Regions from separate parts of the Homo sapiens genome. Here region 2 is linked to region 1. The links come from fine-mapping of genetic effects on gene expression. A gene starts in region 1. The other region holds a variant in brackets. All regions are shown on one strand. Distances are between the middles of the regions. Region 1 holds the start of DGUOK (deoxyguanosine kinase). Region 2 overlaps DGUOK (deoxyguanosine kinase).

Region 1 (5,377 bases):
CTGGCATTAAATACCACCTACATTTACAGCTCCAGTCCGGGGAGACCCTAATTCTGAACTTACATATCCAATTACCTATTCAACACCTCTACTTGGATATTAATAGGCATGTAAAAACCTAACATGCTTAAAACCAAGGCTCACTTCTGTAATCCCAGCACTTTGGGAAGCCAAGGCAGGAGGATCAATTGAGCCCAGGAGATCAAGACCAGCCTGGAAAATATAGTGAGACCCTGTCTCTACAAAAAATATACAAAATTAGCCACGCATAGTGGCAAACACCTGTGGATCCAGCTACTCAAGAGGCTAAGGTGGGAGGATGGCTTGAGCCTGGGAGGCAGGCTGCAGTGAGATGCAATTGCATCACTGTATTCTAGCCTGGCAACAGGGCAAGACCACACCAAAGGAGGGGAAGCGAGGGGAGGGGAGGAAGAAGGAGAGGAGGAAATAAAAGAAAATCAGGAGTCTATCTTTCAAGTACTCAAGTCAAAATAATTGGAGTCATCATTGGCCCCTCTCTTTACCTTACACTCTGCATTCAACCTGTCACCAAATCCAATTGGCCCTATCTTAAAATATAACTAGAACCCAATCATTTCTCACCACTTCCACTGTTAAATTTTACTTAAAATGTAACTCAATTTTTGTTAACGTATAACTAGAATCCAATCACGTCTCACCACTTTCACTTTTCACAATACTATAATTATTGCAATACCACTTAACACTCTTCACTTTCAATGTTATCAGCCACAGTGATCTTTTTATAATCTAAGTAAAACTGTCACTTGACTCCTCAAACCTTCCAATGGCTACCCATCTCGGTAAGATTAAAAACCCATGATAAGGCCTATAAAATCTGGCCACCCCTTGGGCTTTTGCCCTAATTTCCCTCCCATCCTTGCTCACTCGACTTCAGTCACAACGATTTCCCTCCTATTCCCCGAACACACTTTCCACCTCAGGGCCTTTCCAATTGCTCTTCACTCTGCCTAGAAGATTCTTCTCCCAGGTATCCACGTGATTTGCTCCCTCATCTTCAGTTTTTTGCTCAGATGTCACCTTCTCAGTGAGGCCTTGCTTATTTTATTTAAAATGACAACTTCGGCCAGGTGCAGTGGCTAACGCCTATAATCCCAGCACTTTGGGAGGCCGAGGCAGGCGGATCACCTGAGGTTAGGAGTTTGAGACCAGCCTGGCCAACATGGTGAAACCCTGTCTCTACTAACAAAACAAAAATTAACTGGGTGTGGTGGCGGGTGCCCCTAATCCCAGCTATTCGGGAGGCTGAGGCAGGAGAATCGCTTGAACCAGGGAGGCAGAGGTTGCAGTGAGTCGAGATCGTGTCATTGCACTCCAGCCTGGGTAACAAGAGCAAAACTCCATCTCAAATAAAATAAAATAAAAACTTCCCTCAATTCTTCATCCCTAATTTTTCTCCATCATACTTATTACTCTCTAACATATTGTTCACCTTGCTTAATTTATGTTGTTTATTGTCCATCTCTCCCTACTTGAGTTCCATGAGAGCAGAGATTTTTATTTGTTCTATTCACAGCTGTATTCTCCAGGCCAAGAACAGTGCTGGCATATGGAAGTGGCTCAAAAGGTGATTTGTTGAATGAATAAAAAAAGAAATTCTCAGTTTGCTGCTACGTCTTCAGTACTCAACACTTGCTAAGCCCCTTTTAGGGGCTCAGTGACTTGGTAGATAAAAGTATCAAGTCAGAATTTATTAATATTAAATCGAAATGCTTTGCCTTCATTTTGCTTTCTGACTACTTTTTATTCAAGATACTGGATCTCACTCTTTTAACAAAATAATTTTTAATTTAATACATGTTTTTAAGTTTAAAAAGTGAGGTTCTTCTAAGAAAAGCCTTAAGAAATTATTATGCAACTAGCACAGGCACAGGGCAAAAATTGTGAATGTGGTATTTGAACGACTGAAATTTAGGAACTCTCTTCGAATAGGGTTGCCAGATAAAATACAGGACACAGTTAAATTTGAACTTTCAATGAGTGATTTCGTTGTTGTTTTGCTGTAAGGATGTCCCAAATATTGCATTGGACACACACTAAAAATTATTCGTTATCTTAAATTCTATTTTAACTGGATATTATTTTTAATTTCTGCTAAATATGGCAACCCTATCTAGGAGAACAAATAAACTGCACCCGCTTGTCGCTTCAATTTCGATCTATTACAAACAGCTAATACAATTCTTGTCCTATCCACTAACTGCGTGGCTTTTATGCCCCAACAAATATGTTCCTGTGGGCGGGTACTGAGGCCCGATATCCTAAAAACAAGGAGGCAAAGATACACAGTGCACTTTGCGAGGGGAAAGGCTCTCCTCGCAGCCCAGAAAAAGAGGCCGGCCGCATCAGACGCAGGCCATTCCGGGCCCAGCTCCTTTCCCAGCCTCTGTCGCCTGCGTGGCGGAGGCCAAGGCTTGGCAGCCGCTTTCCGGCCCTTACCAATGTTGCCTTCGATGGAGAGCCTTCGGGGCCCGCGCCCCGCGTGCAGGCCTCTGGAGGAGGAAACGCCCTCGAGTGGGCTCTTGGCCATGGAACTGAAGGGTGCTCGAAGCCGACTTAGAAAGAGGCGGCCCGCGGCCATCCCACCCACGATTCACACAGCGATCACTTCCGCCGAGAGCACTTCCGCCCTAGGTATCGCTGCTCACTCGCTCCAGCGCACCGTTGACGTAAGGAGATCGTCAGACAGGAAGTGGGTGGGGTTGAACATGCGGCGGGGTGCGCCCAAGAGACCGCTCCGCTATCGCGATGTTTGTAAAGAAGCGTTGAGTGAAGGAAGTTTTGCAACGGTGCAGAATTTGATAGTAAAAGGAGTTGCGGTGCGAGTGGTTTTTGTTCATTGGACAAATAACATTTTAAAAGACGTAATTCCACAATCCAACCACTTCATTTTTGTATAACTTTAAAATAAATTTTATAACTGAAGACAAAATTAAAAATAGAAATTGTAATTTTAAGAGGGGATTTCCCCCCCCCCAGGTGCTTGTTGTCTGGTTTTTATTTTAATATCGGAAGAAAATGGAAGTTTTAAAGTAGGAAAATGACTCAATCTGATGATTTACACAAATTTAACTTTTTCCTATTCCCTGTAATTCCCCTGCACAATGCTGGCATATTATTGACTAAATTAACAAATTAGATAATCAGTTACACCCCATCTCTTAGTTTGTGTCTTGAATAAGTAAATAAATGTTCGGTCAATCGATTTGCATTATACCCAAAAATCCCTTCAGGATAAGGTGGTGGTGGCTCAGGTATGTGACTGGAAATTGTTTAAACCTGGTAGGCTGGGTTCTTGGACGTAAGCAATGGCGAGTAGAGACTTGTATAAAACCTGAGTCCTGCTGTCGGTGAAGTGTGCTCTGCAGGAGGGCAGGGACCTAAGCTGCTGCCACAGGTGAAGCCGGACTGCCACACCCCGTCGTCATAACAACCTCAGAAGTAATGATTTACAAAATGTTGTCAAATGGTGCTTCCAGTTCCAATCGCTTAAATCACCAACAGTCAAAACCAGGAGTCAACAGGCCAAACCGGCCTTCAGGCAGCGCTCTTAGGTGTGGCAGGTTTTAGAAGACAAGGATCTGATTGCAAGGGGGCTGGGGAGGGGCCGGGGGCTGGGATACCTGTCTTGAAGCTGTTCCCATAAAAAGCACGGGACCTTTTTCTTATGTTGATGTATATATAGGATGGCTGAGGTCATGTTTATATATTAAGAACTTTTTTTTTAATCGAATTTTTTAAGGATAACCAGGGTGGGGCGTTAATGGCTACTGGAGCGGCTAAAGTCCTACCCATTCCCATCTCCACTCCAGCAGCCACTTCTGTTAAAACAAAACAAAACAAAACAAAACAAAACAAAAAACAAAAAAAAAACTGCTTACATTTCTTTACCTATGTAAACTCAGACTTGGAAAATATTCATCCAAAAAAGCTTGAGAGGCTCTCTGCCTCGCCAGGATCTTGCTGCCTCAGGGGTGTTGTGAAAGTTAAATGAGGAAGTTGTCTGCAGGCAGGCATTAATCTCCTAAAAGCTACGAGGCAGGAAAATAGGGTCTGGAGACAGGGAACCTAAGGCCGATTTAGGCTGACTTCCTAGAACTAAATCAAAAGGAAAACCCCAACTTTCTAGCCCAAGTAACAAAAGGACCAGAAGCTAATCCCTCTTCTGGGTGGCAGATAAAAAATTGAAAGTACCTCTGACTGGTCCCCGCGGGCAATCAGTCAGGCTGGTGGCAGGCCAAGTCTTTAGTTGCATGGGGTATAACTTCATAACTTTACTTCAGCCTCTGATTGGTCCCCTCCTGCAACCAATCAGACTGATCGCTGGCCACTACTTCATTTACATAGGGTGTACACCAGGTAACCAATGGGAAACCTCTAGAAGGTATTTAAACCCCAGAAAATTCTGTAATTGCTGCTTGCTTGGGCCCTTCCTACCGCAAGGAGTGTTCTTTGATGTACAATAAATCTGTGCTTTTGTTGCTTCATTGTTTCCTTGCTTTGTACGTTTTGTCCAATTCTTTGTTCAAAATGTCAAGAACCTGGGCACCCTCCACCAGTAACAGAGCTCCTAAAAATTATTTTTAAAAATTTTATGGTGAAGTGGCCTGGCGCGGTGGCTCACGCCTGTAATCCCAGCACTTTGGGAGGCTGACGAGGGCGGATCACGAGGTCAGGAGATCAAGACCATCCTGGCTAACATGGTGAAACCCTGTCTCTACTAAAGAGAGAGAAAAAAAAAAAAGCGGAGTGTGGTGGTGGGCTCCTGTAGTCCCAGCTACTCAGGAGGCTGAGGCAGGAGAATGGCCTGAACCGGGGAGGCGGAGCTTGCAGTGAGCCGAGATCGCGCCACTGTGCTCCAGCCTGGGCGACAGAGCGAGACTCCGTCTCAAAAAAAAAAAAAAAAAAAAATTATGGTAAAGCATAGTATGTAGTGAGGAAAAGAGGATGTGTTGTGCAGTGAGGAAAAGAGGATGTGTTGTAAGTGTACAGTTCAATGAAGTTTTCACAAATGGAATGACTGTTACCTGGATTCAGATCAAGAAACAGCATTATCCGCATCTCCAGAATCCCCCATATTCGTTGCCAGTTACTATCCCTCAAAGATAACCATTAGCCTGACTTCAACAGTAGAGATTAGTTTTGCGTTTTCTTTATATAAATGGAATTATATAGTAAATACTTCTTTTATTTAACATATCTGTGAGATTCATCCAGGTTGAATGTATTAGTTGTAGTTCACTCATTCTCATTGCTGTATAGTATTCCACAATGTCACTATACCACAATGTACTCGGAAGTTTCTAGATTTGAGCCATAATGAATAGTGTTGCGG
Region 2 (5,377 bases), 30 kb before region 1:
GGAGCACTTCAATCCTATAGAGCCATGTATTTTTCTTCCCTTAACAATAAATTCTATTTGAAGGGTAAAGAGCACAACAAAAAATTTTTTTTTTTTTTTTCCTGCACAGAGAGATCCACTCCATTAACGTTATCTGGAAGTCATTGGGTAAGGTATTTAGACAAAGATAGAGTGCCGGGCGGGCCAATCTTAAATGTCAGATGCTTAACTTTTGGGTTCTTGCTGTTTTCTACCTTTTTCTTTTGGCCAGGTTCTTTAGCTCTAGGACAAGGGTTTAAGTTCCCCACACCTGTCCCCTATGTCAAGAGTGGCAGATGGGAAGAGATAAAGAAGCTTCCTGGAGTTCATGCTCCATTTCCTGCTCTGGGGGGCTCACATTTAAGATCCCACCCACTCTTGAGCCACTTTATTTCCCTTCTTCATGCATGGCAGGTAGGGCTTGGGTTAGAGTTCTGGGAGCAATTTGAAAATTGCTAGTTGATATGGTTAGGCTTTGTGTCCCCAGCCAAATCTCATCTTGAATTGTAATCCCCAGGTGTCAAGGGAGAGACTTGGTGGGAGGCGACTGTATCACCGGGACAGGTCCCCCATGCTGTTCTCATGGCAGTGAGCTCTCAAAAGATCTAATGGTTTTATAAGGCAGGTTTCCCTGCTCTTTCTTGCACTCGCTCATTCACCTGCCACCATGTGAGATGTGCCTGTTTCCCCTCTGCCATGATTGTAAGTTTCCTGAGGCCTCCCCCACCATGCGAAACTGTGAATCGATTAAACCTCTTTCCTTTAGAAATTACCCAGCCTCAGGTAGTATCTTTATAGCAGTGTGAAAACGGACTAATACACTAGTCTAGAGGTGAATTTAGAGCAAGCACCAAGAGATACATGCTGAAATAAATGAGCAACTGAATTAGAAAAACAAGCATAACTTAAGTAAACTTTATTTTCAAAATGCTTCAGGTACAAAAGAAAACAATGGCAAAGTCTAACAATAATTAACAAACCAGCTCTTGAGCGGCAGAGTGCTCCAGGGATGAGAGGGGCTGGGGATGGAAAGGTGGTTGGGAGACACAACATTTTTCTAGCTTCAGAAAGTCAGGGAGCCCAGATCACAGCCTGAACTTCATGGTATTGGTTACAGATTCTTTACAAAGGTGTTTACCTGTGGGAAGGAGAAAATCAGAAGTTTAATTTCACATTTTTAACAGAATTTTCAATGGTCCACCCCCAATGCATATGCAGCCAAGCCCATGAGGTTTTTGTGAGGAAAGGAAAATAATAGGCATGGAGAAGAAATGTGGGCAGCCCAGGGTCATATAGCATCAAGTGGCAGAGCTGGGAATAGAATCCAGTAGTCTCATTTCCCTAGTTTTAGGATGCCTTAGAGAAGAAAGTCAGCTGGCAAGCACATGTTACAAGTCAATTATTTAACAATTATTAGTCCAGCATACTTTAGAGAATAGGGATATTTGTAATCTGCACAAGATTCCATAGGCCTTGGAGTGTGAAATGCAATGTGAGATGCAAAGCACAAGACCCATGATATTGAACTTTGAAGCAAAGGCCAGAAAGATAAAAGTACAACAAAGGAAACCACCAGAAAACAGGAGTTAAAGTCCTTCCCACCTCTCTCATGAGGTCTTCTTGTTTGGTTACTTCCTCAGAAAAATCATCATTGACATCCAACACCAGCACTGGAATGTTCATCAGAGCCTCAAAGTGGAGCCTATAAGAAGCGTGAACGTTTGGGGGACAGAAAAAAAGAAATGTAACTTGAGTCAAGTTTCACATACTCGCCAAGTCTTACTCAGAGAACAGATCTAAATTCAACATGACTTTTCAAAGAAACTGCATGTAAACTGCATTTAAAAAAACAAATTCAATAAAGTTGGCCGGAAACAGAAAGGTTGAGGTTTCTCTTCATTCTTGAGAGTGATACTAACAAACAGTCAGAGCACCAAACATTTTAAGTGGACAACAAACCAAGCCTAAAGGGAGGACAGGCAGAAACCAGGAATGCCAACTTAGTAATACTGACAATTTCTCTAACATTTTCAGCCCTTCATGCTGAGCCAACTATCACCATCAATCACAATGTTCAGTCTAGGGAAATGTTAAGAAACAAAGAAAAAGCTGGAGAAATACAATCTAATAAAAAGGCCCTTGGAATGTAAAGATTATATTCAATATTAAACTTCTTCTGGGCATCTCACTCTGTCGCCCAGGCTGGAGTACAGTGGTGCGATCTCGGCTCACCGCAATCTTTGCCTCCCAGGTTCAAGCGATTCTCCTGCCTCAGCCTCCCGAGTAGCTGGTATTACAGGCGCCTGACACCACACCTGGCTAATTTTTCTATTTTTAGTAGAGACAGGGTTTCACCATGTTGGCCAGGCTGGTCTTGAATCCTGACCTCAGGTGACTGCCT[C/T]AGCCTCCCAAAGTGCTGGGATTACAGGCGTGAGCCACGGTGTCCAGCAATATTAAACTTCTGAGTTGGAAAATGCTTGACATTTCCAACCATTTCCAGTATATTCTGAACCTTCCTACAGGGGGCTGCATGCTGAACTTGTTTTTAACAACTGGCTGTTGGGAGCCAGGTCTCTGTCTCTGATACATTCTTTTCTCCCCACTTACTTCGTTGTCTTGTGAATAAGCCAGGCTTCGTGTTGGCCATGCAGCTGCTCTAGATAGGCCAGCTCAATTCCTTTCTCCTCCTCCCTGGCCCTCTGGTACAGTCTCTTCAAACAAACCTAAAAGACAGTCCCCAAGCCCTGATGAGCTCTTTGCTGTTTTGGCTGCTACAATGCAGTCTTCGGGGGCTCTGAGGCCCACCCATAATGTCTATCTTGGGCATTACAAGCCATGCCTTTGCTTCTGCTGTCTTGTTTTCTTATGCAATCAGAGGATCTACACCATTCTTTTCCCATCTCCACCTTAAACCTGCTCTTCCTCTGAAGTATCCTAAGTCGGTTAATGATGAACATCATCCATCCAGTCATCCAAGCCACGGACCTGGAATTTTCCTTGTTTTTCCTTCTCCCTACTATATCTGGGAAGTCACTCAATTCTCTTTCATCTCTCTAGAATGTTCTCTCCTTGCCTCTCCTCTCACCTCTGCCCTGGTCGGGTCCTCTTTACTTCTTACCTGGATTATGGCAAGAGCCTTCTGGTTCTGCCTCCTGGAGGCAGGGAAGCATATGGACAGAGTACAGGCCTTAAGGTCAGAAAGTCCAGGAGTAAATTCCTGCCTTCATAAGGTACTAGCAGTGCAGTCCTTGTGGGCTTCTATTTCCTCATTGTCTACCCATCCACAGGTCACTGAGGTAAGTTGTATTGAGCTCCTGGCAAAAGCTGTTCCCTCCTTCCAGTTTTTCCCCTTCACTCCACCCGTCTGTAGTACGGCAATATAATGACATGACTTTCCTTGCTGAAAATACTTCACAGGCTCTTTACCGCCTACAGCCATAGCCCCAGGGTTCAAAGCAGTATGTATGAATAGCATTGCATTTATAAAATGTTAGGTAATTTGAAATATCTCTTTCATGTCATACCAAACATTCACTCAGGAATAGAATGTAAAATTTGCACAGGTCAAAGATAAAACAAAGAAGTGGAAAAACAAGTGAGGCTTGAGACTAACTCTCCTCCCCCGCTGCTTTGCAGAGTGTACATAATTCTATTCTGCATTCATCTGGTAGTGAAGTTTGATGCACACTGGCTCAGAAAATGACATCTTCTTTACCTGTCACACAAAGCTACCCCTCCTACTTCTCAACTGCCTTAGCTCTTCCCCTGGACTCACTGCTTTAGCCAGATTTGACCTCTTTCCTGGGGAACAGGCCAGGCTCTTTCACACCTCAAAATTTTTGCTCCAAATGTTTGTTTTGACTGAATTATCCTCAGTCCTCTCTCTGCTTGACAAACATTTCATTATTCAATATCATCTGTCCTGGAAGAACAGATGGATTAACCCACTGATTTAGGACTTCACTCTTTTTTTTTGAGACAGAGTCTTGCTCTGTTGCCAGGCTGGAGTGCAGTGGCGCGATCTCAGCTCACTGCAACCTCTGCCTCCCAGGTTCAAGTGATTCTCTTGCCTCAGCCTCTCAAGTAGCTGGGACTACAGGCGGGAGCCACCACGCCCAACTAATTTTTTGTATTTTTAGTAGAGATGGGGTTTCACCATGTCGGCCAGGATGGTCTCGATCTCTTGGCATCGTGATCTGCCCGCTTCGGCTTCTCAAAATGCTGGGATTACAGGCGTGAGCCACCGTGCCCGGCCAGGACTTCCCTCTTTCAATAACTTACTTAAGAAATGAAAACTTAATTTCCAAATGTAGTACACAATAATCCCAAAGACTTGGGAGTCTTTGCTGTTTCCCTCTTATCTTACCTTTTCTCTAAGGAAATGAAATTATAGAAACAAATTTTATTAATGATCAAAAGGTATATGCACTTGCAATTATATACTGCCAGACTGCCTCCTTAGAGGTTAACCAATTTATATTCCCACCAGAAAGGTAGCTTTAGGATTTCTAAGCATAGCAAAGCTATCATCTCATTTTCCTTTCTGAGAAAAAAAATGTTGTCTGTTTCGTGAAAATAAATTTTTTTAAAATGTGACTTTATGTTTCCAAGTACACACACAAAGGCAGAACAATTCTTTTTAGGAAAGCTATTTATAATTATTCATTCACTGCTTGCAGACAAACCTTGACACTAACATTGATCTATTAAAATAAGCTAACATATTTCTATTTACTATTAATTTCCTTAACAGAGCAAATGGATTTCCCTGAGAAGTCTAAGTCTTAACTGGTGGCAGTATTGAGTGGGGAAAAAAAAAGAGGTCGAAGTAAACTCCTACTATGAGCATTTGGCATAACTCTTGCTTTACTGATATCGCTATAACAAATTCTATTTAAAAAAATCCCGTGCAAACAGTGCTTTAGTCTGACCCCTCTTCATCTCAGTCCTCATGAGGAAGACACACCTGAATGTGAACAGGAAAGATAGTGTAGCTACAAGTGGCGAGGGAGAGACCCTTTACTGGTCTTCTTAACCTGTCCCACCCAGGAAGAAGAACTGCTGCTCTGCTTGCTTGGAGTCAGAAACAGAAAATGGAAAGTGACTGCTAGTGGGTCTTTTCACTATGCCTCTCAAGCCCAAACCCAGGTGCCATTTGTCCCATGCACCTCCTGCATGCTGTCCCCATGCTGTGCCAGTCCCAGGTAGGGCCTGGCTTTTTGATGTACATTGATCAGCTGCACTCTCTTGATTCCATGGGGCTGGCTAGGAACACTGAGGCCTAGCTATTTCTCTTTTGAGTTTTAAAATTGTTAGCTTGCTTGTGTTTTAAAAAAAATTTTTAGAGATGGGGTCTCCC

The links. PIP is the estimated chance that this variant, and not a neighbour inherited with it, causes the effect.
Region 2: its variant is fine-mapped to the expression of DGUOK in monocytes (TOPMed, PIP 0.95).

What each region holds. Positions count from the first base shown.
Region 1 is chr2:73,924,157-73,929,533 of GRCh38, reverse strand. It overlaps DGUOK (deoxyguanosine kinase), which reads right to left and starts at 2,654. Exons shown (of 7, transcript NM_080916.3): 1 at 2,482-2,654. The coding sequence starts at 2,623. RefSeq lists an enhancer at 2,353-2,622.
Region 2 is chr2:73,954,489-73,959,865 of GRCh38, reverse strand. It overlaps DGUOK (deoxyguanosine kinase), which reads right to left. Exons shown (of 7, transcript NM_080916.3): 5 at 2,626-2,741; 6 at 1,621-1,720; 7 at 920-1,156. The coding sequence ends at 1,130. It overlaps DGUOK-AS1 (DGUOK antisense RNA 1), which reads left to right. Exons shown (of 2, transcript NR_104030.1): 2 at 1,659-1,899. Among named protein-coding and RNA genes, the nearest start is that of DGUOK-AS1, 24 kb to the left of the region's middle. The variant C/T (reference allele first, on the strand shown) is at 2,420.